Homo sapiens: one gene and its partners. The protein of the gene in region 4 interacts with the protein of the main gene of each other region in a pairwise test. Each region holds a gene or a part of one and is shown on either strand. Other genes may lie near its edges. The genes, in order: MAL, SLC30A2, SIAH2, OPRM1, CYB561, CCDC167 and CLDN10.

What was found.
Region 1: the proteins of OPRM1 (region 4) and MAL interact in binary tests that used the Homo sapiens proteins (3 or more experiments, as listed by UniProt).
Region 2: the proteins of OPRM1 (region 4) and SLC30A2 interact in binary tests that used the Homo sapiens proteins (3 or more experiments, as listed by UniProt).
Region 3: the proteins of OPRM1 (region 4) and SIAH2 interact in binary tests that used the Homo sapiens proteins (3 or more experiments, as listed by UniProt).
Region 5: the proteins of OPRM1 (region 4) and CYB561 interact in binary tests that used the Homo sapiens proteins (3 or more experiments, as listed by UniProt).
Region 6: the proteins of OPRM1 (region 4) and CCDC167 interact in binary tests that used the Homo sapiens proteins (3 or more experiments, as listed by UniProt).
Region 7: the proteins of OPRM1 (region 4) and CLDN10 interact in binary tests that used the Homo sapiens proteins (3 or more experiments, as listed by UniProt).

The regions. Positions count from the first base shown.
Region 1 is NC_000002.12:95,042,708-95,046,207, forward strand, and holds part of MAL (myelin and lymphocyte protein), read left to right. Parts: intron 1-3,177; exon of another isoform or gene 3,178-3,440; intron 3,441-3,500. UniProt on the Homo sapiens protein: May be involved in vesicular trafficking from the Golgi apparatus to the cell membrane. Plays a role in the maintenance of the myelin sheath, and in axon-glia and glia-glia interactions.
Region 2 is NC_000001.11:26,043,319-26,047,413, forward strand, and holds the start of SLC30A2 (proton-coupled zinc antiporter SLC30A2), read right to left. Parts: upstream 2,801-4,095; 5' UTR 2,579-2,800; coding exon 2,529-2,578; intron 1,900-2,528; coding exon 1,679-1,899; intron 1,127-1,678; coding exon 980-1,126; intron 234-979; coding exon 80-233; intron 1-79.
Region 3 is NC_000003.12:150,743,398-150,746,169, reverse strand, and holds part of SIAH2 (E3 ubiquitin-protein ligase SIAH2), read left to right. Parts: intron 1-2,772. UniProt on the Homo sapiens protein: E3 ubiquitin-protein ligase that mediates ubiquitination and subsequent proteasomal degradation of target proteins.
Region 4 is NC_000006.12:154,045,740-154,049,239, forward strand, and holds part of OPRM1 (mu-type opioid receptor), read left to right. Parts: intron 1-3,500. UniProt on the Homo sapiens protein: Receptor for endogenous opioids such as beta-endorphin and endomorphin. Receptor for natural and synthetic opioids including morphine, heroin, DAMGO, fentanyl, etorphine, buprenorphin and methadone.
Region 5 is NC_000017.11:63,439,807-63,443,306, reverse strand, and holds part of CYB561 (transmembrane ascorbate-dependent reductase CYB561), read left to right. Parts: intron 1-2,479; exon of another isoform or gene 2,480-2,580; intron 2,581-3,039; exon of another isoform or gene 3,040-3,107; coding exon of another isoform or gene 3,108-3,115; intron 3,116-3,500. UniProt on the Homo sapiens protein: Transmembrane reductase that uses ascorbate as an electron donor in the cytoplasm and transfers electrons across membranes to reduce monodehydro-L-ascorbate radical in the lumen of secretory vesicles.
Region 6 is NC_000006.12:37,489,894-37,493,393, forward strand, and holds part of CCDC167 (coiled-coil domain-containing protein 167), read right to left. Parts: intron 1-3,500.
Region 7 is NC_000013.11:95,555,720-95,559,219, forward strand, and holds part of CLDN10 (claudin-10), read left to right. Parts: exon of another isoform or gene 1-205; intron 206-1,779; exon of another isoform or gene 1,780-1,859; coding exon of another isoform or gene 1,860-1,905; intron 1,906-3,500. UniProt on the Homo sapiens protein: Forms paracellular channels: polymerizes in tight junction strands with cation- and anion-selective channels through the strands, conveying epithelial permeability in a process known as paracellular tight junction permeability.

The DNA of each region.
Region 1 (3,500 bases), on a different chromosome or scaffold from region 4:
TTCAAAATAATTGCCTCTTTGCACTGCCACCTGGAGGCTGGGAGCCACCTGGAGTCTCCTTGATGAAAGGAAATGCTTGAACCCTCACATACTCCCTTGCTCTGGACAAATATTTGGCCAGCGGGGTCCTGAGGCCAGGCTGGAACAGATTGCTCTGTGCCCAGGAGTGCCTTAACTCCCTGGTGTGGGTGCCCTTCTTACTCTGTTTGCTCTCTGTACATTTAGTAGGTGGAGCAGGGCAGGAACCAGATTTGACTCATGGTTTACAACAAATCTCAGCTTTGCACACAGCGGGGCTGGAGGCTCACCCTCCCTGGAGCCCCACCTTCTGCTACTCCTTGACCCAAGCCCGGCTGCCCAGCCTTCAGCCTCCAAAGCCCTCACAGCTGCTTCAGCATCCTCTGAGCTTGGCATGTGCCCTTTCTGCCCTCTGGAGAGCCCCTCCCAGTCCTTTGGCCTGGTTAACCAGTTAGGTCCACCTCTCTCTCCAAGGCTCGACTGACCCTATGCACCTGTCCAGGCTGCTCTGCCCACTCGGGGCTGGTTGTCCACCTGCATGTTAAGTGGCTGCTTATGCATCTGTTTCCACTGAGCTGTCAGCCTCCTGCATGAACGACAACTTATTCCCAGGTATTGGTAGTGCTGGGCTCAGTGCCAGAAGCTTCATACTCACATCTGTAGTTTTAGCCAGTTCACACCAGCCCCCAGTGTGGGGAGACTGCTGTGAGTTGCCATTTGCAGAGAGGAAGCTGGGGCCAAGAGGCAGAATCACTTGCTGCAGCGTCCCACAGTGACTTCGGAGGACAGCTCCTCTGAGAACGGGAGTCCCCTGCCAAGGGGAGGGAGCTGGCAGGGCGCCTCTGCATTAGAATTCTCCCAGAGAAGACCGCGGCAAAGGCCTGTGCTCCAAAGGCAAGGGGCATGACTCAGCTGAGGCAACAGCTGTTTCTGTTCCACAGACACCTAGCCGGGAATGAAATCTCTCCTGACTCGGCTGTGCCTTTCCCGTATCCTCCTCTTCTTCTCAGGATTGCTCTTCACCCTCCTCCGCCCTGTCCCCCAGATGGCCCCTGTGACCCTGGGCTCTGCAGTCCTCCCTGGGCATCTCCTGGGCAGTGCTGAGCGGAAGGTCGACCGCCCCACTGCCCATCCCCTGGGAGCAAACCCCTGGCTTTCATGATGTCATCTGTGCTGAGACATCTGTGACTACCTTCACCTTCATATGTTTCTGGGACAGGCAAGGACTGGTGTAAGAGCGTCCCTAGGAACGTGGTTCCTCAGAGGCTTCTGGGTTGGAGGCTCCAGGGACATGAGACACACTCACCCAGGGCCCCCTGAATGGTGGGGTCCAAAAGGGGCACTGTGCAGCTGCAACGGTAGAGATATTCTGTGTAAGTCCCCTTGAGAGAGAATTTCTCACCTGAAGACATTATACTAAATGAAAGAAGTGAGCCACAAAAGTCCATATGTTGAATGATTCCATTCATATGAAAGTTCAAAATATGGAAGTTTGTAGAGATAGAAAGTAGATTAGTGGTTGCTTGGAATGGGGGCAGGGAAGCCACAGCTCATGGGATTTCTTTCCAAGGTGATGACAATGTTCCAAGATTGACTGTGGTGATGGACGCACGTATCTGCGAATATTCTGAAAACCAGGGAATCATACCCTTTCAATGGGGGAACTGCATGGGCTGTGAATTATAGCTCATAAAGCTGTTTAAGAAAAGAAAAAGATAATGTCTCCCCACCATCTCACTATGAAACATACTGCTATAAATATACCATGCAAAGGAAAAAAGTCGGCCTCATTTTTTAAAGGACTCACTTGCAAGGTGATGCCCCCAGAGGCTGGGTGGGGTCCTGAGATCTGTCAGGAGCTGGGGTTAAACCCATAGTGGGCTTTGTTCTATGGACAACTGTGGACAAGGTTCCCACTATAGACTGCAGGAACCTGCGAGCCAGTGTGGGGAGCATGGAATTTCCCAGGGAGCTGGAAAATAGTCTTCATCAGGTTGGTAAAAGCACACACTGGAACAGGGCAGAGTCTGGCCTGACCTCAAGGCCCTCCGCGCAGCTGCCGGAAGCTCAGAGCCCAGGCTGTGGCTGCAGCCAGCAAGGTGCACACAGGAGGCTGTGACCAGCTCTCCACACACTGACTTCCCCTCACTTTTCCTGCCATTGATTCCTCACACCAGTCACATCTTAAGCCACGTGGGAAGAATGGAGTGGAGTGAGATGACTCTGCAGACAGGAGCTGAGGACTACCTTCTCAGATTTGCCATTTCCAGCTGCCATCTGTGCATTAATTTACCTCATATGTATTTTACAGTTAATTTTTCCCAAAATAATGACATTGCAACCATAAGCATAGAAACAATGTCACTATCCGGTTTACCTTTGCCTATCCACGCTATTAGAGAACTCCAGACACCTGGCTCCACCCTGAGCCCTTCTTGCCTTCATCAGAAAAACCAAAGAGAGTAAAGGAGGAGGAAAATCGTTTCCTCACTGTGAAATTCAGTGTTCCTCGATAGCATGTGTATAGGTCACCCGTAAGCGCCTCTGGCCCACGGGGTCCCACTGGGATTCCATAACGGAGTCTCTTCCCAACCATGTGCAACCCAAGCTGCTCCTTTGGGGTTTGGTTCATAAGTGGCTCTAGTTCAGCCACACCCAGGTACCAGGAGACCAAGGCCCGTTAGCTGACTTGGACACCGATGCATGGCTGGATGGGTCTTCTCCTGGTCCCCACCAGTGAGGCAGCTGTGAGCAAGGCAGACCTCAAGCCCACCATCACCTGGTCAGGGAAAGCGCCATGTTATCCCTAACCCAATATACCTGTGTTTGTGCTGAGTGCTACAGAGAAGACGTGCAGGACTCCCTGAGACTGTGTGAACGAGGAAGCAACTTAAATTGGTCCTCCTGGGAGGGTCACGTAGCCACCAGGCAAAAGGCACTTAGGAGAGGGGTTCCCAGGCCAGGGCCTCCCTCTTCCCACTGGATGTGCCCGCTGGATCCTCCTCCTATTTCTCCATGCCACCCTCGCATGCCTCCTGAATCCAAGCCCTGCCTGTACCAATGTGCTCCTGTCCCTCCGTCAGTGCCCGTTATGGAAAAGGCCACATAATCTGTTGAATCTTAAACTCAACTGTGGATGAAATCTACACACACATCTTATTCCATGGTGGTCTGGGCATTTTTATTTAATTGATTTTGCTCCCATTTTTGTAAGATGCACAGTGCATCCCACCGGCCCTGCCACGTGCCTTCAGGCAACCTAAGATCCATCAGCAGAGGACGCTTTCTGGTCAGAGATGCCCACATCTGATTCCTTAGGGACAACTTGGTTTTAATAAATCCAAAGTCTTCATTGCACTGATTTTTCTACCCAAATGCAATTCTCTCCTGATTGCTTCTCAGTCAAGCAGCTCAGAGAACACCTGTGAAGACAGCGGTATCTCTCACCCAGCAGGTGGGCAGCAGGTGCAGGGAGGTGGGGG
Region 2 (4,095 bases), on a different chromosome or scaffold from region 4:
TTTCCGCAAAGCAGACATAGGTGTGGGTGTGAGAGGCGGGAGGAGGAGGGGAGACGAGGGAAACTGGGGCCCCACTCACATGATGTTCACAGCCACAGCGCAGCCCGACGTGATCAGCATGGTCCCCCCGTCAATTTCATAGTCCCCAGAGATCAGCCGCTCCACAGCCAGGTACACCAGTACCCCCGTCACGACCCAGATGGACAGTACAGAGACCAGGGCTCCCAAGATCTCTGAGGAAGAACCCAACCCCAACACCCACCTTGGCATGGGCCTGGAGCTAAGGAGTCTTCCCCCTTCCTTCAGGATCCTCCCCACCCACCTCCCACACAAAGTCAGGGCCTGGGTCCCACTGGGCTCTGCTGAAGGTATGGCCGGTATGGCTGCCCCTTACCCCACCCCTCATATATCTAGGAATGTAAGAGCTAGAAGGAACTAATAAGTCATCATCTGAGTCCACCTTTTTGGTTGTACATGTAAAGAAGCTGACTTATTAAAGTATGTGCCTTTTGTTCAGCTAGTAAACTGAGGCTTCTGGGGAAGACAGGCTGGGCCATCTCCCACAAAGAGGAAGGTGACGATGCAGTCCAGGGTGAACGGAAGAGAGGTTAAAGCCTATATCTTCCAGCAGCCTTTGCTGGCCTTCCCCTCCCCCCAGAGCTGATCCACAGAGTTATGTGCAGTGTTAATGCCATTGTCATTTGTTCTTGAAGCTTGGCTACTGCACTTCTTAGGAAGGTCAACTTTGCTTCCCTGCAGACTGAGAGCTCCTGGATGACTGGGACCAGGGCTCCCCCATCAGACTAGGATTTCCCAGAGGACAGAGGCCATGGTTGACATCCTCTTCCCCCATCCAGATCACCCTCCTGGCCTCACTCAGGGGAGGAAGGGGGGATCCACCCATTACAGCCACCTAAGAACCCCTGTTCTAACCCACCCTCTCTCTCAACCCCATCTCCAGCCAAACCGCGATCCTCACCAGCTCTCTGCCAGCCAAAGTTCATGGTCTTGGTGGCTGGCCGGGAGGACATCCAGAGGGAGAAGAGGCTGATGAGCATGCTGGCAAAGTCAGTGAGCAGGTGTGCTGCGTCAGTCATGACAGCCAAGCTGTGTGCCAGGTACCCACCTGCAGGGTGGAGGGTCCTTATCAGCTCCCCCAGAGAGCTGGCTCCCAAGACTGTGTGTGCAGCAGGGAGACCACAGGCTCTGGAAGAGGACATTCTGGGCTCAAGATCTCTCTACCCATGAGCTGTACCACCGTGACAAGTGACCTACTCTCTCTGAGCCTCAACTTCCACTCTCTGTGAAATGGGCCACCAATATCTACTTAGAGGGTGAATGTGCACATCAAGTTCAAATAGGGACTGGAAAACATAGCAGATACTCAGTAAATGCTCTTCCCTTCTAGGAATTCAGGCCTTCCCTTAGCTACGAGTTGTGCGTGATCTTTGGCAAGTTACTTCACCTGAACATGCCTCAGTTTCATCATCTGTAAAGTAAGGAGAATAACGTCACCCATGTGAGAACACAGGTTGTTGTTAGACCTGCATCAGATAATGTGTATATAAAGGCTTACTGTAGTGTGTGTTCAGTAATTGGGGCTTTTAGTGTCAGTATTGCTGGGAACATCCAGTCTATCCATGCACCAACTTCATTTAATTAGCCCAAAAGTGCTTACCAACGACTTCTCCGATCATGAACAACAGGCAGATGGCAGAGGCTACATACAGCTGGCGCTGGGCCTTCCCCTTCTTGGGGTCACAGTGACTGTCAGGACCCTTCTGAGCATGGCAGTGATGGTTGCTCTGGGCAGCCAGCTCAATGGCCTGCAAGTCCAGGCCAGGTCGGGGCAGAGGAATCCAGCCAGCCCCTTCCTGCCACAGAGATCCCGTGTATGACCTGGCCAGAGGGGAAGAGAGGGAACGCTCAGCTCTGAGATGAGGTAAGGAGGGCCGACTCTAGTCCCATTTCTCTGTGAGGCCTTGTGTCCACTGGGAAAAATAGCTAAGGACGCTCCGAGCTCGACAAACCAGAGGTGAGAAGCCTGTATTCAGACGGGGATGATAGGGGAATGGGAGTCCTGGGGCCCGGGGCCCTTCAGAGGCCAGAGGAGGTGAAGACCCTGGGAACCGGCCAAGGGGCGTGCTGTCCAGTGGAGCGCGGGGAAGGAACAGAGCGCAGGCTCTGGGAGAACAGCAGGCCCCCTCCAGCGCACTTGGGACACAGGGCCTCCCCGGGGCGGGGCTGCCTGGGGCAAAGTGCTGGGCGGGGCGGGACTCCAGGCATGGGAACCGCCAATCCCCCGGCCCCAGGCCCCCCGCGGGCAGGGGTCAGAATCTGGGCTGCGCCCCAAGGGAGAGACGGTCCTTGGGCCACAGCCCATTATCTTCGTTCCCTCACCTCACCCCACCCCTCCTGCATGGTCCCAGCTCAAGCCGCAGCCAAAACCAACCACTGCTAGGATGGCAAATGCGGAGGTGCGTCGGCTGCCGCCAAAATTCCCGCCCGTCCCCAGGCTCTCGCCTTACCGGATTGCCGGCCTGGCGTCCAACAGATGCTGCTTCTCCTTGGCCTCCATGCAGTCCCGCGCCGAGTCCCGGCAGCCGCGCAGCCGCCCCGCCGAGTGCGCCCTGAAAGTTGCGCGCGGGACTCCGGGTGGCGCTCACCCACCTGCCCCGAGGGCCCCGCGAGGTGCGCTCACTCCGGCCCGGCTCCTGCGGCCCCTGAGCTCCCCCGGCTCCCGCTGCGGCTGCAGCTCCGGCTCTGGCTCCGCGTGCCAAGCGCTCCCGTGTCTCGGGTCAGCCGCTGCGCCCCGCGGCCGCCGGCTTTATCCGGCCCTCGCCAACCCGTGTGAAGCTGCCGTCGGCGCGTCGTGTGCAAAAGCCCGCGGGGAAGGGGGGGCGGTCGCCGGCTGCAAAAGGCCCGGCTGTGGCCCCGCACACCTGTGCCTGCGCCCATGGGGCCCGCGGAGCCCACCTGCCGGCCGCGAGAAGTTTGCCAGCCTTCGCCCGGCGCGGCGCCGGGTGTTGCTGAGTGAGGACGGGGTGACGCCTGCGCCCCCTCTCCCGCGCGGGGTGCGCCGCCTCGCCGCCGAAAAGTTCTCGACTTTAGTTTGTAGAAATCCGCTTTGGTGGTCCCGACGGCAGGAATGTGGCTCCTTGCCTCGGAAGAGGGTCTCCAGAGGCTACTGGGGCCGCGTCTGCCCCCTCCGACTGGCGGCTGCCCTGGGCTTGATCATGTTCCCCTCTCAGGCCGGAGACCCCCCGAGGTCGGCTTGCGTTCCTGTCCTCCTGCTAGGAGGGTCCTGGGGTGGGGTGGGCTGCGCCGCCCTCAGGCTGGGGCAGTGTCTCTCCCTAGGACCGGCTGGGACTGATCGACCCATCCTCGCCACTGAAGCAGCGCCAGCTCCTCCTCTCCTGCGCGCAGGAGAATCTGGAGTGGCCGGCTTTGTCTCCACCCGCACAGAGAACAGTGTCATCGGCAGTCACCATCGGAGCAGAGACGACCACTGCCACTGCTGCCACCCCTTCTCCCCTCCCCCGCAGCGGCTCCTGGGAGCCCCAGGAAGCCTGACAAGCAAGCCTGGGAGATGCAGGCCGGAGGTGCCACCGTGTTGGTACCGCTGGGAGAAGCCCTGTCCTTCCTGGCCAGCTTGGTGCCCCACCCACTTGAAGCAGCCTCCTTCCCTGGCGGTTCTTGGGGATTGGGGAGCCTGTGGCCCCCACGCTGGCCTCTGACAGGTGCCCTCTGTGTAGAAAGAAGCTGCTGGAGACCTCCCTGTCTGGTCAATTCGTCTCCCCAGCACCCTTTGTCGCTAGGACCATAGGCTTGGTGGGTATGGCCTTTCACAGAGCCAAGAGTCAGAGGTGCAGGCCTCTTGCCCACACCACTGGGGACAGGAAGGGGCTCTTTCAGTCTCTCATCTTGTAGGAGACGGGGTGCCAGGAGTGAGGATGTGAGGTGCACCCGCTCTGCTTGGGTCCTCACTGAGTGCCTCTCTGCTTCTCTGGACTCTGGTTTTCTTCTGGAAAACCTCAGACACCCTGGTTTTCTCCAGGTCTGTCTACTCTGAGCACCAGCAGGCTCAGCATTACC
Region 3 (2,772 bases), on a different chromosome or scaffold from region 4:
CACCTGCCGCAGCCTACCCAAGTGCTGAGATTACAGGTGTGAGCAGCGCGCCTGGCCTCCTTGAGGTTTTATCCCCACTGTTTCCTCCACTCACCCTGTGCTAGAACCAGATGGAACAACTCCATCCACAATCCACTTGTCTACAATAAAGCTTTCCTTACCATGTCCTCCTCACCCTGTCCCACCTTGAAATCACCTGTTGCCCTCCTGGTCTTCCTTTACATAGTTGTTAAATTTATTATATGGTCTTTCTCAACTGGAAACACCACAAGGGCAGGATCCACAGCTGATTCCTTCTGTGTGCTCTAGGATAGAGGTTCTCAGCCCTGGAAACTCTTAGAAACCCTTGGAGCTCTTCAAGAAAACACAAGCCCAGGCTGGGCACAGTGGCTCAAGCCTGCAATCCCAGCACTTTGGGAGGCCGTGGCGGGTGGATCACGAGGTCAGGAGATCGAGACCATCCTGGCTAACACGGTGAGACCCCGTCTCTACTAAAAATACAAAAAATTAGCTGGGTGTGGTGGCAGGCACCTGTAGTCCCAGCTACTTGGGAGGCTGAGGCAGGAGAATGGCATGAACCCGGGAGGCGGAGCTTGCAGTGAACCGAGATCGCGCCACTGCACTCCAGCTTGGGTGACAGAGCAAGACTCCATCTCAAAAAAAAAAAAGAAAAGAAAACACAAGCCCAAGGCCAGGGGCCAGTGAGACTTGGCTTTGCTGCTCAGAAGCACCTAGACAGTTTTACATACAGTCTTGGGGAATTCACAAACTACTAAAGTCCTCCCTCGGATCCCTGGATGAGAGCCCCTGATGAAAGTGACAAAACACCCATGGTGCTCTGACATGCCATTCCAGAACAATGCCAAAACTGCTTGAAGTATGAAATGTGGGGTGTGTGTGTGTGTGTGTGTGTGTGTGTGTGTGTGTGTAGGGGGTTAAAATTTAGACTTTAGTCATCATAAAAGTGGCACCAGTTGTTATGAAGACATGAACCTTACCCATGATGGAAAGAGAAGGGATAGATTGCCATGAAAGTTCTGCTTGTTCAGTAAAAGCAGAGTAAGCACCTAAGGCTTTAAAACTATTTATTTAAGTTAATAGAGGATGTAGCAAGATCCTTATGAAAAAACATGAGATCGTTGTCCACACAAATGCAAAGTAATGCCTTTTCTATTTGTGCAGTTTGGGGAGGTTCCCTGTTCTGTATATTTGGGTGGAAAGAAGTGTTGAATATGTGATTTGTAAGGCAAATCAAATAATTCAGAGTATAAATACTCCTACTTGAGTGGGGAAAGTTATAAAATGATTGCCAAGTGATAAATATTTGCTGTAAATGTTGAGTTCGTCATGAATGAGGAGTGGTTTGGGACTTTGGGCAGAGGTGCAGCTGGTACCTTTCTGGGTGCCATTGGCCAAAGTTCATCTCATTCCTGGGCAGCTATGGGGAAAAGTTCGTCTTGAAACATCTTCAGATATTGAGAGCTTGTTTCGAGACTCTGCCAGGCTCTGGGCTATTTCTTGCTATTTTTATTGTGTGTGTGTGTTTTTTTAAACTGGACAGAAATGTCTCACCCATCACTCACAGAAGAACATGAGGAGGCTCTGTATTCCTAGCCACACCCTAGATTTAAAACACAGTTAATAGGGATTTGTTTTTCAGGCCTTATAAAGTAAGGAACACAAAGTATGAATACACATGGATAAATAAATTTGTTTCTCCTGAGTGAGTTTTTTTACAGCCAGGCTTTAGAAATTAGTTCAGAGTTTTAAAAGATGAACAAACAATTCCTATGGGCAAATAAGTAACTGAAATATTTCTGCCAATTTCTGTTAAATATTATAATCCGCTTAGGTATGGGGAAGTGGGGGTTGGAGGATGAGCTACATTTCTTTCTTTAAGCCACTCTCCTTTCCGATTAGGGGAGACTAATCCCCCTGAGAGTGGAGGCTGTCATCCTTGCTTCGGAATCCTCTGAGTGACTGTAACTTAGCGTCTTGTATGGAGAAGTCACATAGTGCATACCATCTGCTTGTTGCTAGTGATAAATTCATCTATGAAGGTTAGAATTTGACCGACTTCAAGTTTAAAAGGGGGATTATTCTATAAAGCAGGGTAGAGAGAAGCAAAAACAGCAGTGGTGCTTTTTTTTTTTTTTAGCAACTGGACATAGCATCTTAGAAAAATGACCTGGCCTTGCCCTTATTTGGTGCCTTCATGTCTCAGTGGAGCAGGGGAATCCAAGTGTAGTTAGCCAGACAGTTCCCCTGCCATTCTGTGCTCCAGGGGTCTAAGGCTGACACCTAGTTTCACCTGAAAAGGTGATTCAGGTTTCTTAATTCTTTACAGAACAGCTTAGTACTCAGGGCAGGTGTCTACTTGTGGGCTGATCTCCATCTGGTATCTAGGAATTAACACTGTCATCCTTGTGAGAGTCTGGAGTAGAAGTTCAGTTCCTCTTGGTGTGGTCTTTTGCCACGGCAGGTATGATTTATCCATTAGGAATGTCATCCCAAGTGCAAGGGAGAAAATGATTTTGTTCTCCTACCCTATTAAGGCAGTGTCTGAGGGGCAGACTGATCATGTCAGCAAACTTGTCTAGTTCTGCTTCCTCCCGGGCCTGTTGTGAGGACCTGACATACCTGACCATGAAATGATGTGCTCTTGAATCTGAGGAAGTGTTGGGGGTCAGCAAGCTTTGAGAGGAGGGTTAGGCCCTTCTCATGTTAACCTCTACTGGCCAGAACCAGACTGACCAGTAGTCTTCTGAGTTA
Region 4 (3,500 bases):
TCTACTGGAGTAATTGCCCTCCATAGGAATCAGCCTGGCACTCACAAAGGCACTATTTGGAAGTTCAGGAAAGTTCCCTTGACCAGGAAATGGAAGCCTGTGGAAAAATGCTGCCCTTGCTCCCCTCTCTCCTGAGGTGTACAATTCTGAGGTGCCAACTACAAGGCACATCAGAAGGCCCCGCCCACATTGTGACCGTCTCAAAAACATGCCTCGTTTTCCTCTTCCCTGGTTTACTCTTCTAGTTTCCCACTCCTTGCCAAGCAACCACTTTTCAAAATGGTTCACCTTCACACAAGGTCGTATCTCACACTCTGCTGAATATCCTTCCTGTTATTTTATAATTGGTGACTATACGTTAGCACAGTAAAATCTGTTTAATAAATAGAGCTCTTACAGACCTATCAATAAAGGTTTTCTCTTAACTATCAAAAACTCGTAAGAAAAATTCTGATAGGCAGCACCAGTTAGAACTACCAAGAGAGTTCAGAAGCTAAGCTTTTCCTTCCATTTTTGTTCCTGCCTTGGGATTTAGGAAAGGCTTTTTTGGGTAGGTTTGGCTGAATGGAGAGAGAGTGGGCACCAGTCATGTCCAGTGTTCAGTTTACTTCTTCTTGAGCTCAGGATAATAGGAGCAGAATTGTGTGTGCCATGTAAAGGAAATAAAGCCTCCTGTGCCTTCTGGCAAATTATCTGAGGGTATAAGAAAACAAACAAACAAAAAATCCTGCCACTCCCTTTTCCATTAATTTCATGTTATATAGTAACGTTAAGAGTATCTTGTGATTAATTGAGCTCAAGAAAATTTCAGTCTTCAAAAGTGAGCTGAAGCATCAAATGCAGGAAACGTCATATACAACAAGCATCATATACTGAGCTTACCAAGCAACTCCTTTCTTTACCCATCCTTTCTTGCCTCAGGTAACTTTTTTTCTTTCCCCATCAATTTCTCAGATACAAATTTAGAAAGGAAGAACAGCAAGGAAGAGAAACCTTGCCCTGGCTCAGGGCCCCAAGTGTCAGTTGTGGCTCGACTTCAAGGCACTCTGCGCCTCACTCTCCTTATCTGTAAAAAGGTGCGAATTGGACTAAAAAAATCTTAAACGCTTTCTAGTACTAAAATGTCCTATGGCAACTTCAATGACTATTAAGAGCATGTTTTTCCCAGCAATACAATCTGGAGGAAAAGAGGAATCATCCACAAAACTAAACAATCGTGGTTGCCATTCCATCACAGCCCTTTGGATTCTATATAAGCTCAAATAGGTTCTGTCAAAGGGAGAAAGAGTGAGTGTGCTCTGAACTGCCAGGTGTGGTGTTTATGATTAGGACAATAAGGGAAACAGAAAGTTACAGTCAAGCCTTTATTCATATGCTTCGAGAGTACAGGCAAGTGGTTAAGTGGGAAAAGGTGCAACCCCATCATGTTTCATTCCCCCCACCCCCACCCCACAGAAGCCACCAGGTGAGCATCACATGTTTGAGCAGAAATGCAGGAAGGAGAGGGAAAAGTCATCTTCTTACTGCACTGGGAGGCCCAAGCAAAAGGTCCTGCTGTTTTGTGTACCTGAGGGCCTGGGTGCAAGATGGGGAAAGACAAGGAATGAAAAACAGTGAGTCAGAGTATGTGCTGCCTCCTTAAGGGTTAGGAACGCATAACCTAAAAGCGTGACTGGCAAAGGTGGAGCGTGGGCAAAATTCTCTCTCTCTCTCTCTCTCTCTCTCTCTGTCTCTCATTCTCTGTTTAATTTTTAGGAGATGGTTTTAATATTTGCCTTTAGGTATTAGTCCTATCCTGGATGTTGTATTCCAAATCTGATGCAAAGAGGTTCCACCAAATCTAATCAAGTGAACTTTCGTAAACCAATGGATAGGGCTTTCCCATAAGATGAAGTGTGTGATGGGTTTAAATGAGAGAGAGATCATTCTGTTCTGGATATGTGTCTGTCCAGGCAAAAATGTTGTTAAGTACAATTTTTGTTTGTTTGTTTTTTGTTTGTTTTAAATAATATGTTAGCTTATGCACTGTATGTAAGTAGGTGTCTTCGTGTGTTCAGGCTGCTATAACAAAGTACCATAGCCTGGGTGGCTTACAAACTACAGAAATTTACTCTTACAGTGCTGGAGGCTTGAGGAGTTCATGATGAAAGCACCAGCAGATTCTGCATTTGCTGAGGACCTTCTTGCAGAGACAACTAACTTCTCCCCATTTCTCCACAAGGCAAAGAGGCAAGGAAGCTCTCTAGGGCCTCTTTCATAAGGGCATTAATAGTGTTCATAATGGCTCTGCTCTCATGACCTAATCACCTCCCAAAGGCCCCACCTCCAAATACCATCACACTGGGGAATAGGTTTTCAACATGTGAATTTGAGGGGAACACATTCAGTTTACAGTAGGTGTCCTAAGTGATTCAAATATTAACCACTCATATTCACTGAAAACCATTAGTGTGATTTAAATTAACGTTTACGTAAATTAGGCCAACCTGATTCCTTCACTATCTTCCAATATGCTTCATGTTTATCTCTTCTATACTGTTTCCTTTATTTTTCTTTCTCTCTGTTTTCCTGTAACGTATCTCTCATTCTTTTCCTATCAAAATGTTTCTTGTTCTTCAAGTATCAACTTAAATCCATCCTTTCTTACAGCCTCTCCAAAGTACTCCTACAACCAATTTCCCTGCAATATAACCCAAAATACATGCTACCATTGTTAAAAAAAAATTATGCATTTTCTCATGGCCTTATAAAATGTCACTTGATAAAACTTAAAGACTTGAACTATATCTATCTCTTTGTGTTTAGGTGAGAAATCCAACATTCAAAGTTGACCAACAGAACTGAATATCTTCAAAATACTGTACAATTCTAAGCTATTAGCAATTCAGATGTACCTCAAATTATTCAAGTATAAAATCTAATTTAAATAATTTTCTCAATTCACTTTGTTCATGCATATTTAGCTTTTATCACTTGAGTCATGAAAAGTGATCTGTACCATAGATACATATTAGCAAATCATAAATTCAAATACAAACACATACATGTCTATATATGCATATATTCCTGAGTTTACAAACTTTAAAAAGGGAATATATGGTTACTCTTATAATAAAAACTCAGAAAGTAAAATTTGAAGAAGTAAAAACATAAAAAGTTAATATAGTCAATTCCCATTATTCATGATAGTTATGGTCCATAAAGTCATTATGACTACAGAATTCGTGAGTACTGAAGCTTTGCTTCTAGGGGATATATAGGGCAGGTTCCTGTGAGCCTCTGATTATAAAATTTTCATCAGCTAATGCATTCGTAACCTTGTTTTATGTGTGTTTCTGTTTAAAGACGCTTTATTTAATATATAGCTGATTCACTAACGTTGAACTCATGGTTAACAGCACTATAAATCATGCCTGAACAAAGCTTCTGTAACACAAGTACTTTCCTCATAAGCCACATCACAGTCTTCTTGGCTTAGGGACACTAAGCAGAACTTCCAC
Region 5 (3,500 bases), on a different chromosome or scaffold from region 4:
CAGGGCCTGGTGTCTCTGCATGCACCAGGGCTTAGTGCCATGCTGGTACAAGCGTGGGGAGGATGCAGGAGGACTGGCATGGGATGGGGAGCACTGCCTGGGAAGCCCCTTCTTCCTGGGGCTACTGGGGTGCTAAGAAAGTACCCTAATAGCTCACACCACACTTTGCTTTCTCCTTCATCACATGCTAGGACGCTCTAGGGCAATTGAGCTGTTTTCCCCTTCACCCATCAAGAAGAGATATCGGCCTTTCCGCAGTCACAGTCTTTCCTAACTCAATTCAAACTCTGCTGTTGATAAGGAGGGCTGTAGCCAGCCCAGGCTGCCCGCTTCCCAGCCTCCCCTGCTCCGCCTTCCGCCCCCGAGGCTGTGCACCATGTGCAGTGTCTGGTCCCCAATAATGAGATTAGTCTTGGTTGCCTTTTAATAAAACGCAGTGGGCACCGGGAGGGAGAGCGATGCTTGGCTCAGTGAAGATCTGCGGGTCATGCTGTCCCTAATGCGCTGATTGCATTAAGTGGATTCTGGCTGCAGGTAGGGTGAGTGGGTGGGGACGAGGGTGACTCTCACAGCTCTAAGATCCAGAAACTGCCAGAGATCTGTCACCCTCATCCTGAGCTGTCACAGAGGAAGGCAAGTGACTGTGTGAGGGGCTACGTGAGCTCCCTCTGGTTGCAAGGTTCTGGTCTGCAGGGCAGTGGAGCCCTTGGGGGTGGGGAGTGGCAGCTTCCAGGCCTTGAAGCTGCTGCCCACAGTTCTGCTCTGAGAACACAGAGGGCCCAAGAACAGCCGGTGTCCCAGGGCTGCCCAGTGAGGAGGGAAGAGCGAGAGAGTATTCTTGCTGTCAAGACTGGGAAATGAGGGCCACGATTCAAAGCCTTGCTTCCTAGGGAGAAATCTCACCCAATGTCCAGGTTTGCAAATGCAGCAGACACATTTGTGGGTGGGTCAGATTCTGTCCAGAGATACCAGAATGTCTATCCCTGTACACCCCCACCTCTGGCATGGGACAGCCCTTCCCTGCACACAAATGGGTTATCAATTATGTCCAATGAATGGCCTCACGAGAGTCCTGTTGCGGAAGGGATCTTCCGCTTATCTCCTGTAAAGCACAGAGCCACGCTCAGAACCTACGGACTGTGGTCGCCTGCAGGCCAGCCATGGGCTTTCCTTTCATCCTTACACTTAGATTTTGAAGCCTCGCCTTTGAATCAGAAGCAGGCTGCTGTCATTCCAGAGGCCGCTGTTCATCTCTGGCTTCCTCCCAGATGCCCAGGTGCCCCGGGTGCCTGGGCTGCCTAGGCCAGGGCACCCGCCTTAGGAGCAAATGGAAATGCATCTTCCTCGGCTTGTTTGCCCTCCTGTAACCCCTTCCCTCTTGCCTTCGGTCAGGGCCTGCTGTCTTGCACGCACCAGTGCTTAGTGCCATGGTGGAACCGAGGCGGGGAGGACGCAGGAGGACTGGCACAGGAGGGGGGGCACCGCCCGGGAGCTTCCCCTGCGTCAAAGCAGCTTCCTCAGTGAGCTCCAACACAGACCCTTGCTGGCCTCAGTCTCTGGAAAGACTGACAGCACCACCCTAGTTCCTGGGCCTTGGAAAGGCCAAAGCCACGAGCAGGCAGCCACTGTTCGGCAGGAGAGCTAGAGATGCTATTGCCCACAGACATCAAAGCAGGGGTGCCGTCTTCCGTGTGCATGCTGGGACGGGTCTTGGAGGCCCAGATTAGCTCCTGGCTTGAACTTGTACCACCCTTACCTGAAAATTGGGTCTGTACCAAAGCTCATCTGCACGCCCCTTTAGGGCAGGGACCAGGCCCCCTCTGTGTGGCCCTAGCACCTGGCCAAGTGCAGGTGGCTGCGGGTTGAGTTGAGCTGCTATTTGCTGATGGGAATTTGGGGGCCTGTCGCTTGTCCTCTTTGAGCCTCCATTTCCTGGCCTGTCAAATTGGGGCAATGCTCCTGTTATCCACACAGTGTCATTTAAGGGTGACATTAGAGATGGCATGAAGTGCCCAGCACAGAGCAGGTGCTCACAGGCTGTTGGGTCCCCACCCTACTGACACACCAAGCACACGTCTGCCCTGCCATGGTGGGGAGCAAACAATGTTATGGTTCCGACTCCCCGGGAGGCCAGGCCGGGCATTTCACTGTAGGATGTTGAAGCCGCAGGCAGTCGTCGCTGCGAGAAGAGAGCCTGGCTCTGATGTCCACTGTCTTCCAGGGAGCCTGGTGGGAAGGAAGGAGTGGGCAGCGGCCCCTCGCTCTGCGGGCCTCTCCTGCCCTTTGTACTCCACGAGGTGTGAGGAAGTTGCCGGGTCACCCAGCAGAGGGAGAGGTGATGTCCCCTCTGTTCTTCCTAATTTGTAGCTAATCAGATTCTGCCTGCAGCCAGGCTCTCTGGGGATGAATCTAATAAAGGAGGCGGCGACCTGGAGAGGAGGACAGACAACAAGTGACCAGGGGGGACAGCACTTCTTTCAGTACATTTTCCTGTTAGACTCGGGGTATTAGAGACCCAAAGATACCCAAGGAGGAGTGAGAGCGTCCCTGCCTTCGAGGAGCAGACAGGGCACCGCGAGGGTAAGGAGGCTCCGGGAGAGCCTGGGGACAGAGTGATCTGCGCACCGCGGTGCCTGAGGAGTGGAGGCAGGGGTGTGGGCCCACAGCAGGGAGCCAGGCTGGGCCATGTCCTTGGATTCTGTGAGCCCAGGCGTCTCCTCTAGAGGGCCTAGCAGGAACAGTGGGGGCTGCAGATGGAAACGGGCAGGATCATGCCATGCAGTTGGCATTTCACTGGCACTCGGGGGCACTTACGCAGGGGACAGCATGATGTTGGGAGCTGGCTTTGTCCCTGGCATGTCTGTCACGTTGAAGAGGGAGAAGCTGCAGGCCCTGACTTGGGTGGGGCAGTGAGGATGCTCAGGAGGGAAGTGAGGGGAGGGGTGCCAGCATGCGGCGGCCTGGGCAGCCTTCTGTGGAGGAGCTGAGGTGTCACCTGGGCCCGGAAGAAGGGCAGCCCTGCTAGCTAGTGGGGAGGGCATGAGAGAACTTGGCGACGATGGGAGAGAAGGTGACTTGGGACGAGCTGGGTTTGAAGCGTCTGTGGGATGTCCAGGTAGAGATGAGTAGTGAACCGTCAGAAATGGGGCTTGAATTTGGGGTGGCGGGGACAGAACTGATACCCGTGTAGGTGACAGATAAGGACAGAGGCAGGAGTTCCAAAAATAGGATTTATTGTTGGCTGGGGCTTCTGGAATCCCGTATTCCCGTCCACCCTGGGAATGTGGATTGGAGCTATGTTTCTGGGAGATGATTTGATGGAATGTGTCAGAAGTCTAAAACAGAACCTAGCCCTTGTTTCAGGATTCCCTGCAGAGAAGTTTGCAGATGACCACATCCTGTTGTTTATTTGGTGGAAAACTGAAATCGAAAGCTAGCTAAATGCTGAACAATGGGAACTAGTTGGCTAAAAAATGGCCGTGCAATGCAAGAGTGTGAGG
Region 6 (3,500 bases), about 120 Mb from region 4:
GTAGAGACAGCCAAGGCAGAGACCTAGACGGCACAGTGTGGGGGCAGAGAGCAGGTGCCCCCTGCTGTACAATAACATTAAGAACCACCCGTGCATTATATTTACACTCAGAAAACCAAGGTCAATTTTTACATGGGGAAAAAGCACTGTGTCCCAGTCACTGAGATGAGTCAGCAGGGGGCACAGGGCTGCGATCTGCAGGGGCTTTGGGGACCCCAGGAAGTAAGAGAGGCGATGGTATGAACCCACTGTCAGCCAGCACACTGCTTCCTGGCATCTGGCCCAGCCTGAGCCCTGGGGAGGCGCTGTGTGAAGCCCTGTGTGAGCGGTCCAGGGGCCCAAGGAACAGGTTGGAGAGTGTGAAGGGTGTCCTGGGGAAAGTCTGTTCTTTACCCAGAGACCAGCAGTGGCTAAAAACTGCCTGGGGGGATGGCTGGGGAGTCTGCCTAGGCAGGGGAGACACAGAGCACAAAGGAAGAGGGGAGGAGGAAGGAAAAAGAGGCATATGAGGCAGGGAATGGAGAAGGAGCATCCCTCAGGTAGACAGGTGGGAAAGGCCCCAGGGGAGGCCTTAGGGAGTGGGACCCAACAAGTCCGTTCTTTTAACAGAAAAGCCCCGTAGTGATGCTGCCTAAATTACTGAGAACTGCTGCTTCTCAGTATCAGAGCCTGGGGCAGGGAATTGAGGCCTGCTGGGTGAAGGAGTGAGCTCAGCGAGGAGACCCATGAGACCAAAGGCCCTCCACAGAGGGGGTGTTCTGTGCAGAAGAATGAGAAGATCTAAAGTCAGCCCAGCAGTCAAGGCTGCAGAGGCTGTGTTGTAGGCCTGAGGGGTGCTGGGGACAAGGCCCTAGCCAAGTAGGGCCGTCAATCCTGCTGGCAGGTGCCAAGAGCAGAAAGGGCTTCTTCATGCCCAGCGGCAGGGGCAGGGACTCTTCCTGCAGCCTCCCTGAGAGCCCATCAGACAGATGCAGCTCCAAGCACCCGGGCCTGGAGTTCAGCAGCCCCCAGGCAGATAAGCAAACTCCCCTCTGCAGCCTGACTTGGGGAATATCACCTTATTCTGGGAGCTTTAAGGAAGTCTCCCTGGGGTCCTATATGCCATAAAACCACTGTGTTAAGAGAAACTGTAAAATTCGTGTGAAATCCCCGCGAGGCATCTTTTCAGGAGTGTAGGCCCTCTCAGAATCAGAGCCCCACGGAGGCCTCACTGGGGGCAGGGAATTTCGTGCCAGCTCATGCACAGATAACTGCCCCAGCATCCTGGCCAGGTCAGCTGATGGGGTGCCAGCTCCACGGCTAGCTGCTGTTGGGGGCCTCATATGCAGCTTTTCTGCCAACAAGCACGAGACAGTTCGAGCCACAGGCTACCGTTCACTCTATTCTCCTACTGAATGGTGTTCCCACAGAGCATCTAGACAGCCGGGGAGGTGGCTCTCTGCCCACTCCCTAATGAACCACTGTCTAGGGCCAGACCTGTTTCTGGGAAAGGGCAGAAGGCACCCCCGGGGCCTGGTGCTGGGCTACACAGGCCACTCTGCTTTCTGATTTAGGAAGCTGTTTGCTGTCTCTCCGGCTTTACTCTTGGGAGCTTCTGGCCAGCGAGTGACAGGTTTGCTACAGGGTCAGGCAGTGGTAATGGGGCATACACTGCACCTGGCTGGACAGGTCCTTACTGGGCACTCAGACCTTCCAATAAAGAGCGTGGTGCCAGGGTAGCTGAGCCGAGCCAAGTCACAGAGTCTCCAGTGTCTGCATGACAGCATGAGTGTAAGCAGCCTCTGGAAACCAAAAGTCCCAGCAAAATGGAACCACAACAGTGACAGCAGCAGCAACACTTCTGTAGTCTGTGCTGTGTGCCAGGCACTGACCTACATGCTTTACACCGATTAACTCACATAATGCTCGCAAGAACCCTGTGAGGTGGGCAGTATTATCAGCATCCACATTTGACAGATGAGGGGACTCAGACATAGGTAACTGTCCAGGGTCACACAGGCATTAAGTCCGGGAGCTGGGCAGCCACGTCTGTGCCCTTAACCACCATGCCACATGGAGAAGGCAGCGCTCATCAGCTCTGAGGGACTCCTAGCTCCTGGGCACAACCTCCACACCTTACCCCTGGAGCTGGGCAGGTTGTGGGCAGCTTCCTGTGTCTGCAACCGCCCTGCAAGGAAGGGCCCATCTCCATCTTACAGAGGTGCAAGCTCCCTTGCAGAGGTTTTCAGCACCTTGCCCAAGGTCGTGTAACTGGGAAGGGGCAGAATTGAAGCCTGAATCTGGGTTTTTCTGCTTCAGGGCTTATGCTCTTTCCACCACTTCAAGCTCTTTCTCCAAAATCCCTCATGAAAACATTCATGACAAGAGTTCTGCAGAACAGTCATTCCACATCCCAGCTGAAGCCCATCTAAGCTTGCTGATCTGGCTTCAACAGATTCTCTACTCGGAATAATCTTGTACAAGGCTCTGCTCAGTTTCTGTCTACATAACAGATACTCTCTGTGAGGGAAAGCCCTCATTGAAATTTGTTTGTTGAGACAGAGGAGACAGGAGCCCAGCGTCTGCCCTTACACTGGGCCAACTCAATGAGCTTCACAAACATCCCAGGCATTTTGCCCCAGATCACCTCGACTGTCAAAGCATCCTCCAAAATTCACACAAAACAGATCCAGTTTGGAGACGGAAAAAGGTGGGCTACTTGGGCCTGATAAACCCTTCTTTCCCCAGCAGTACCGAAGCCTTCCCTTTCACTTGCTAATTCACAGCCTGGAGAGTGGTGTCAGCTGTTTCATCTCCAGCCCCAGCAGCCTGGGAACTGGATTTTTGAAAATTCACTCATTTTCACACGTCAGGAGACCCCAGGACATTTATTATAATGGGTAAAGCAGCCAAGTGCCTGCCCAGATGGTCTCTGGCAAGAGTGCAGGGGCTTTCCATTTGGAGCCTTCAGGCTCCACAGCAAGTCACACGGGGTTCTTAGGCCTCAATTTTCCAGGTGACAAGCCTCAAACCCCAAGGGGCCCATTATCCCCACATCGTTTAAGGGATGTTTTTCTGTGGAGGCGGCTCACAGAGCTCTGTGGGGGCAGAAAAACCTCCGCCCATGGCTCCCCACATCAACAGGCCCTGTAAGGATTTCTCTCGCAGGTTGTGCAGCTGAAGACGGCAGACCTTCCCAGTTTTTAATCAATGAACAATTTTCAGGAAGAGCAGGGAGAGCCTAGGGGCTTGTCGCTCGCCTGGACACACCCCCATGCCAGGTCAGAAAGGCGAGGGAACCGCTGCAGCCCACGCGAGTCCCGACGCCTTCCCGCGAGGAGACGGAGGCCGAGCCAGCCTTGCAAGTTAGCGCCCGAGCCAGTCCGCGCCCGAAGATGCCAGCTGTCCCTGGGCCGGAAGGTGGTGTGGGGTTTGTTTTGTCTTCTTTCCCCCCGATATCTATTTTTTGATAAACTAGCAAAAGCTTGTTCATCGCTGAAAGGCTCAAAGCACTTTTCAAG
Region 7 (3,500 bases), on a different chromosome or scaffold from region 4:
GGGTTAAATCATGCAACTGTGTTTTCCTGTGGAGGGGAGTTGATTCCCCCACCTGCAAGTGGAAGCTTCCAGGGTAGGGGCCCTCTGTTTGTCCTCTACCTTGCATTCCCAGGTCAGCCACATCTGGTGGGTGCTGGTCCTGACATTGCCTTTGGAGAAAGTGGCCATGGTGGCCTGAGTGGAACAGCCCTCCCCTTAAACCCAGGTATGAGCTCTAGATTGGGAAGAGAATCCAGGAAGGGAGAGAGAAGGCTCGTGACTCTTGCCTATCTTGTGTTAGGTAGAAGAACTCTTGGAGTCAAACGACGAGGTCATTATTCTGAATTTCTTTTCTTTTTTTTTTTGAGACAAAGTTTCACTCTGTCCCCCAGGACAGAGTGCCATGGCATGATCTCTGCTCACTGCAACTTCCACCTCCCGGGTTCAAGCAATTCTCCTGCCTCAGCCTCCTGAGTAGCTGGGATTACAGGCACCCACTGCCACACCTGGCTGATTTTTGTATTTTTAGTAGAGACAGGGTTTCACCATGTTGGCCAGGCTGGTCTTGAACTCCTGACCTCAAGTGATCTGCCCGCCTCTGCCTCTCAAAGTGCTGGGATTACAGGCATGAGCCATGCGCCCAGCCCTAAATTTCTTATATAAAGAAATCTCTGATTCCCCTCCCCTAGGGGTATCATTGCCACTTGTTTTCCTTATAAGAAAAATGAGGCCTAGCAAAGCTATATGTCTAGATTTAACGTTATGCCATATTAAGAACCCAGCTCTAATTTCTGCTTAGAATCCATTGTAGTATTATAATATGACGGGATGCTTTGATGACTTTCTTACTGCTCAGCAGACATCCATATTATTCATCCTGTGAAGGAGGTGCTGCCATCCCTGTTTTACAGATGAGAGAACTGAGCCTCAAAGAGATTAGGTCCTATAACCAAGTACATACCTTGGGTAAATAGAAGCACCAGAGGTGAAACTCAGAGTTCCTGCCCTCCCCATACCACTGTTCTCTCAAAGGATTTGCAGAAGTACACAAAGCTACCAGGAAAAGAAAAGCACATTCTTTTTTCCCCCCTAAATCCATCAACTAGCACAGGTGCTATTAGCGAATTGTCTCCACCAAGTGGATGTTTTCGTTTTTTGCTGATTTGCAATTGAAAATAAAGTACACATAATTTGGAAAACACTTAACTTTTAAGGAACACCTTGAAGCTTTCCTCCAACAGAGTTCATTAATTTAAAGTCACTGTATTTTACTATTTGAAAATTTCACAGCTGAATGAGCTTGTGATTTCTGTTTATTGTTAACCCATACTCCTTTCAAAGTACCACTTGAACTTCAGCTGAGTATGATTTTCAGCCAGCTTGTTTTTAGTGTATGCCATCTATTTTTGCTAGTGGGAATGCTTGCCATTTCTCCCAGGAGAACTAACTATAAATTATACTTCAGAGAACTTCTAAATAAATATGTTCATGCCTCAGCACCTTAATGTGTTAATTAGCTATTAACAGTGTCAGTAAATTAGACCTGTCAAAAATAATGGCCTCCTTGACTAGGTTTTTACTAACACTTCTCCTGGTGGTGTTACTTGTAAGTTTTGCCCTCAGGAACTGTTAGAAAGCAAGGCTGTAGAGGTCTGCTTTGCAAAAGATGAACTCTGAAAGGGTTTGTTGGAATCATCTTGGCTCCAATCTGTGGGTGTTGTAAGGACTGGTAGCCTTAGAACACTGAGAATTTACAAATCTCAGGCTTACGAGCAACTCCATTACATTTATGGCTGGCAGGGGAGTTTATCCCCTGCTCTTTGCTCTCCATTTCAGAAAATCTGGCCAATGATCGTCCTTGTAAATTGCCTTCTTTGTGCATGCGCAAAATTAACAAGTTATGGCTGCTGTTCATGCTGGAGAAAGGTACCTCATTTTCCAAATCCGGGTTCTGGTTGGCACAAAAGAAGGACCTGACCAGATCAGAATCTGCCCTGCCCACTTCTCCTCTCATGCTTGTGTCAAGAGACCAAAGTGGGTCCTGCTGCCAATACCAGGGCTGGGACGGGGCATCTCAGAGTGAGAAACTCGGGAAAAATGTTATCAGTGGTGATTACATAAAGTTCAAAGACTACTGTTATTTTCCCTGTTGTATTAAGAATCGAATGGGTTGGCCTGGGATTCTACCCACTGTTTATCATCTGGGAAATGCATTCCGCGTTCTAAATGACCAGATTGTAGAATTTAACCTTTGGTAAATTCCCGACAACTTGCACTTTCTGTTAACAAAGCATGGAAGTAACTAAAGGCAATGCAAATTAGGGTACATGCTAATGTTTTCTGGGAGTATATATAAATGGATGAGTCCCCCATTTTTTTGTTTATTTAATGACTGCAGTCAGAGTCAGCTATAAAACCTCAAAACCATAGATTAAAATGAATTTCACAAAAAGAGCGAAACCACACTGTCCGAGTAGCCCTGGTGGCAAGTGATGAACCAGTTTGGGTTATCCTCACAGGCTCTCTTCAAACTTGCAAGGGACTGACAGGCTTCCCCTCTCTGTCTTGCCTCTACCTGCTGTCTGGGCTCTGGCTGGGGAGCTCGAGGACTGAAGTTTAAAATACAGCTGGTTCAGCATTTGGCAGCGGAGACCCAGATAGCCCTGCAGCACAATGATTGCTATGAAAGAAGCCTTCATTATCCTGTTTTGCTAAAAATAAGTTTGTTTTGCTGTTTTTGATAGCCACGGTGTTAGTGAAATTGTTTTCTGTATGGAAATATTTCACACTACACAATGGAAGGTCACTGTCCTTGCAGTCTGCATTTGTGGGAGTCTAAAGTGTTTACAATTAAGTAGAGCAGCTCCTGTTTGCTCTTCAAAAATGGGTCCAAGGAATAGGATTAAAACTTCAATTTCATTCTTTTCCAAAGAAACACAGACTGGGGCCAGGTGCAGTGGCTCATGCCTTTAAGCCCAGCATTTTGGGAGGCCAAGGCAAGAGGATCGCTTGAGGCCAGGAATTCGAGACTAATCTGGGCATTACAGCGAGACACTGTCTCTATAAAAATTTAAAAATTAGCCATAGGTGGGGGCAAGCGCCTATGGTTTCAGCTACTCAGAAGGCTAAGGCAGGAGGATCTCTTGAACCCAGGAATTTGAGGCTGCAGTGAGCTATGATTATGCCACTTCCCTCCAGCCTGGGTGGCAAAAGTGAGATCCTGTGTTAAAAAAAGAAAAGAAAAAAAGAAACTGAACTGGAGGCCACTAGTATGTACTCCCTAAATTCATGATTATCATGGTCTCGGAATTATTATTTATCATGGCTCTGCTTGAACACCAATAATAAATGACTTATCATATATTGACACATAAGAGGTTTTTTCCAGTTAAAAAGTTTAATTCCAAACGTAAACCTGATGTAGGTATATATGTTTATTTGCTTAGCAGATACTTACTTACACCCGGTATGTGCTACTATCACTATTTTAGATCGAAATATGGCATTGTTTCAGGCTGAAA